Regions from separate parts of the Homo sapiens genome. Here region 2 is linked to region 1. A link means that fine-mapping ties the variant in region 1 to the expression of a gene that starts in the linked region. Tissue or cell type: monocytes after interferon gamma. Region 1 holds a variant in brackets; the other region holds the start of a gene. All regions are shown on one strand. Distances are between the middles of the regions.

Region 1 (2,764 bases):
ACTAGTACTTAGAGAATATGATTTGCTACTAAAATACTGAGATGATCACAAAAAAGTCTTTCGAACTCCAAGCATAAATTGTCAAAGAAAAGTTCATGAATTAAGTCATCAAATACTAGCGTTGTAGCCATAATATAATAGCCTCCACTACACTCTTCCATCACAAAAACATTGTCCCATTTTCACCACTGGAAATCAATCTATGCTGGATTTGCCTCTGAAAATAGAAGGGACCATGGTGCTGCTAAGGGCACTGAGAGAGCAGATCAAAGTCATATACAGCAGCGCAGCAAATAGGGCAGCAGCTCACTGTGAGTCGAGGGCACAGACACTGAAGTAGTGAAGTAGTGAAGTCATCGGGGGTGTGCTCTTGTCTGCAGCGCTCCCTCTCTGGTGTTCTCAGACCCCTGGTGGCTCTGACCACCCTTGCGATGCCTGGAGCCCTTTGATGTGTCTCCCCAGCCAAGCTGTCACCTCTGACCATGCCCCAAGCTTCCAAATTAGTCCTCCCATATCCCTATCAAAGCTCCAATTTCCTCATTGACCCCTCCCCATAGATGTTAGAAAAGTGATATAGAACGCGTACATGATGATGCTTTGAAAACTGCACAGCTCTATATAAATGGCCTTTGTTATCGTAACCAACATGTTAATCCTCAGTGTGGTTTATATGCATATTAAAAGAGGCTGCTTGCGGTGATACCTTGACCTGAGGAATAAATCTCTAGTGGTAGAATGGTAAATGGGAGGAACGTTTTGGGAAACGGAGGTTTCCCAGCCAGCCAGCCAGCCAATTAGCTATAAATCACAAGGTATAGGTGTCATCTATTCTGCAACTTTGTTAAACATACAAGGCTTCTGAATTTCATTGGTTTGTAGTTAGACGTTGAACTTAGCATCTTGAGTGTTAAATTGCTTATTATTGGGTGGATACTATCCACATGGCTTAAAAAATGTCTATCACCTCAGTAAGTTTTCCACTATATTTATCAAAAATGTATTATTTTATTGGAGCATTGGTTGTCCAAGGGTGTCCCTTCTACCTTGGCCCTTTGTTTAACTCACCAGGCACCATGACCTAACTCTTCATGAAAAGAAGGCACAAACAGCAGTAGCCTCCTGGGTCCCAGATTGTCTCATCACTTGTGTCATCTTTCGCTCTGTGGTCTCAGATTCTCGGCTCCACATCCTGACTTCAGTTATGTTAGTTATGCTACTGTCTCTTCTGTTTGAAGATCCACCCACACGTATCTCCTGGCTTTTTGAGCTTTGGAATTTCACAAGATTCTAAACTCCATTCCTTCTCTCAGTTTTGGTACCCCATTTAGTTTCTGATGAGAAGCTCCTTTAAATCCACTCCTTTAAATTCAGTCTTACCTTGGCCTGCCACAGTGGCTCACACCTGTAATCCCAGCACTTTGGCAGGCCAAGGCGGATGGATCACTTGAGGTCAGGAGTCT[G/A]AGACCAGCCTGGCCAATGTGGTGAAACCCTGTCTCTATTAAAAACACACAAAAGGCCAGGAGAGGTGGCTCATGCCTGTAATCCCAGCACTTTGGGAGGCTGAGGCAGGTGGATCACCTGAGGTCAGGAGTTCAAGACCAGCCTGGCCAACATGGCGAAACCCTGTCTCTACTAAAAATACAAAAATTAGCCAAGCATGATGGCACGTGCTTGTAATCCCAGGTACCAAGGGGCTGAGGCAGGAGGATCACTTGAACCTGGGAGGTGGAGGTTGCAGTGAGCCAAGATTGTGCCACTGCACTCCAGCCTAGGCAACAGAGCGAGACTCTGTCTCAAACACACACACACACACACACACACACAACTAGATGGGTGTGGTGGCGCATGCCTGTAATCCCAGCTACTTGGGAGGCTGAGGCAGGAGAATCACTTGATCCTGGGAGGCAGAGGTTGCAGTGAGCCGATATCGTGCTGCTGCATTCCAGTCTGGGTGACAGAGCAATGCTTTGTCTCAAAAAAAAAAAAAAAAAAAAAAAGGAAAAAAAGAAACAAAATCCTACCTTTAACACTATCGATGGTTACATGAGATAATAATTTGTTATGTAATGGCCTACTTAACCGCATTTTACTGGGACAACCTGAGAAAATGATTCTTTTATTTTGTAACATTATAAACACTATTTAACCAAACTTATATGGTGCCAAAAGCATGACATATGATTGCATGTGTTAAACAGAAGGTATTTTCATCAGCTGTTATTTAAGGCCTCACATTTAACTTCGGGAGACACTCTGTCATTACCGTTGAAGCTTGCTGTGCAAGTAGCAGTGGAAATAATGCCCCTTTTTTTTTTTGGAAAAAATAAGATGCTTTTTGACACTTCAAATATCAAGATAAATTCAGCCAATTTAGACTTGGCCCATCTTTATACAACATTTTTAAAAGAGGAGGGCACTGTTATTGGTATTGTACTTTATGTGTGCGTGGTTGGAGGCAGTTCATTTAAGGGATAAACATCAAGGCTAAATCTGTGGTTTTATAAATGTAAACAAACTGGTTTGATTTTAGCTATGACCAAACAGATATGCTCGGAAGAAATCTTTGTTCCATCCCGATCCATGTAACTTCCAATTTCCAAGTGGTAGACACGATAGATTAGCACTCAGCACTCAGCATCAGTCCAAGTTCTTTCTAAATAGTAGCGTTCTTATACAGCAGAGGCCAGGAAGCAGAAATGACAGCTCCTAGAGTCACTTGAAGCTAAGTTTGTGATTTCCTAGCATTGCTGTAACAAATTACCAC
Region 2 (2,764 bases), 730 kb before region 1:
TAAAAGCCGAAACTAAATCAGGCAGCAAGAGTAACAAACCATCTGGAAAATGGACCCACGGAGCCGCAAGAATGTACTTTTTTTTTTTATCCTTGACAACTTGTGTCCTAAAGAAAGTGTATTGAAGATAATTGAAATGATTACAATTCATTGCTGCCTGACTTTGAATATGAACAGTCACATAATGACATCCCCGCCACACAACAACAGTTTAATTTCCATTATCCGACTTCGGGATCCTAGCGCCAGCCGCCGGGGCAACGTGGCGCTAATGCAGAAATCTTGGCTCCTGCCTGCATTATTCATTTCGGGGACGTGGGGATGGGATAGGAGTGGAGAGTGGGTTTCTTCCCCTCCCCCGAACTTATTCTGAAAATCCCGGGGACCAATGGACACCGAGGAACCGAAAGCCGAGAGAATAGCTGTCAAGGGGCCACTTTGACCGACGGGGCTGCGGTCGACGGCGCTCCCCGGCTGTCTTTTTGTCCCAGGGGTTCCCAGGCCCGCAGGGCTAGGATCCCCCAGCTCCCACCCTAGTCAGTCCCAGTCAGGGAGGACCTAGGCCAGGGCCTCCTCCCAAGGCTGTCATCTGGCGGGGCAAACGCTCTTCTCTCATTCCTTCGTCTCCCTTCCAGCCCTCGCATCCTTTCCTTCTTTCTGCTTCAGAGCTCTCAGGCTCGCGTGCAGGGCGGGATGGGCCCGGATCGGGGGCCCCTTCGCAGATTTGAAAGTTGCCTCGGCCTTGATCTTCTCCCAGCCTCCCTGCTGGGGACTCACCCCCACATCCCGCTACCCCCCGGGGAAAAGCGAAGAAAGCCAGAGTCTCTTTGCACGGCGGGGACGCTGGCGCTCACCTCTGGGCGCGGCCTCGGTGGAGCCTCAGGGCCAGGGCGGGGTGTGGCGGGGTGTGGCCCGGTGGGGTGAGGGAGGGACCCGGGGTGCAAGCCAGGCCAAGGCCTCCTCAGTGCGCAGGCGCCGTTCGGGCCCGCCGCCCCCTCCCAAGGCGTGGGGTCCCGGGGACAGACCCCGAGCCCCTCTCTGCGCAACTACCGCCTCTAAAAAAAAGACCATCTGGTAATTGTCTTTCTTTAGATCTTCCCTTAATTATGCTTTTAATTAAAGATGGTTCAAGGCACCGGACCACATGAAGGGCAGTAATTACAAATTACATTACAAACCCGACAGACGTAGCAGGATCTGCTGGGAAAAAGGTACCGGAATAAAAATTTGACTAAAGTTTGGGATAAATTAATCGGTGGCTTGAAGAACAGTAGCACATTTCTGATTATGTAGGCTCCAGCCAGGATTTAAGTTTTGTGTCATGATTGTTTTCATATTTCTTTGACATCTATTGATTTGGAGGCAGCTGCAAGCCTTTGTCACAGGAGAGAAGAGCAGTCACAATATATTAGCTTGATGGCATAACTCGAACCGGAGAAGCGAGGGGAGCCTGAGTGACTGGGGCGCACATGACCCCCCTCCTGGGGCCTTTGGGCTCAACCCTTACTTTTAACTTGTTCTAACAGGAATAATGGAGTAGTACTACTAATGCATGGTCAGAAGGGGCTTTTCTGTCTAGAACGCAGGCGGCGGGAGTTGCACCGCCACAGCCCGGGAGACCAAAGAGTCTCCACTCCCCGCTCCCGGCGCCTCCTCGCCGACCGGAGCCCCGAGCCCAGTGAGCCCAGCCGGTCCCACGTCGAGAGGCGCTGGGTTGGGAGAAGTTCTGCTGGTCGTGGGCTCGGCCCCCAGGCGCCAGGCCGAGTGCCCACCTCGGCTTCTTTAGGGGGCCTACAGCGGGCAGCCGAGCGGCTGGCGGACCCGGAGCTTGGGAGGCGACCGCCAGGCTGGTGCCCGGCCTGACCCGGCGTTCGCGGCCGCCCGCTCGCCCGCCGCGGGCCGGGAGCGTACAGGAGTGTGACGCAGATTGTGAAAACAGAAGGGAGGGAGTTGGGTCATTTCCTTCGCTAATCATCGCCCCCTCCTGCTCCTCCTCCCCACCCCCATCCCATCCTCGCCGCCACCCAGCCTCGAACTCTCTTCCTTGCCAGAGTCTGCCTCACTTTGAGCCAGTGGCTGCACTTTATGGAGAAAATATATGTGCCCATCACTCACCCATCTATTTGCAGCGTCCATGGAGCGCCTCGGGGAACACGCATGGACAATTAAACACACCCACTTACGGCGGGATGATGAGGCTTTCTGTTAACCACATGTGTTCAGAAATGGATACAGCCCTAATTTTGACACGGAATGCAGCTAATGCACCTTGCTATAGATGTACGTCCGTTGGAAAAGTGTGTGATGGGCACCTGATCTACACCAAGAGAACAGGGCTGTCTGCAGAAGACCCAGCGGCCTGACACCTTTTCTTGTTGCCGGGGAAGGAAAGTTTTTCTTTTGATTTGTCCTCTCACGATTTTTCCCTTTTCCTTTGCATTACAGTTTCAGAGAGGAATGTAAATATTTTGACTAGACCTCTGCAGGGGCCTTTTAAACACCAGGCACAATCATCTGTGGAATACTGTAGTTCATACTTTCAAAACTTGGGTGTTAAAGAGTCTGTCTTGCTGAGGAAACCCATAGAACTAGTGGCGACCTTTCAACTCCCTATTTGTGTGATGAAATGAAGTATGCCCTAGTGATTGTCGAATTTTAAGGACTTGTTCTGTCACTGCTACTTTCCGATCGTTTGCAGGGAAGAAAAATCAATCAAACAGACCTTTGATGGGGTTGTGGCAAGGTCACATTTCACTGTGCTCCA

Direction of the effects. Positions count from the first base shown, and alleles are read on the strand shown. Sizes are in standard deviations (SD) of each study's normalised expression.
For the expression in monocytes after interferon gamma of the gene that starts at base 1,208 in region 2, G is the high allele of the variant in region 1 and A is the other (large effect, 1.0 SD a copy in Fairfax 2014).

What was found. PIP is the estimated chance that this variant, and not a neighbour inherited with it, causes the effect. A credible set is the group of variants that fine-mapping cannot tell apart.
Region 2: PAUPAR starts here. The variant in region 1 is the best candidate, but not a certain one, in a credible set for the expression of PAUPAR in monocytes after interferon gamma (Fairfax 2014, PIP 0.67).

The regions. Positions count from the first base shown.
Region 1 is chr11:32,555,692-32,558,455 of GRCh38, forward strand. No RefSeq gene overlaps it. Among named protein-coding and RNA genes, the nearest start is that of EIF3M, 27 kb to the right of the region's middle. The variant G/A (reference allele first, on the strand shown) is at 1,461.
Region 2 is chr11:31,825,360-31,828,123 of GRCh38, forward strand. PAUPAR (PAX6 upstream antisense RNA) reads left to right here and starts at 1,208. Exons shown (of 1, transcript NR_117094.1): 1 at 1,208-2,764. All of the region lies in intron 1 of PAX6-AS1 (PAX6 antisense RNA 1), which reads left to right. RefSeq lists an enhancer at 457-1,881.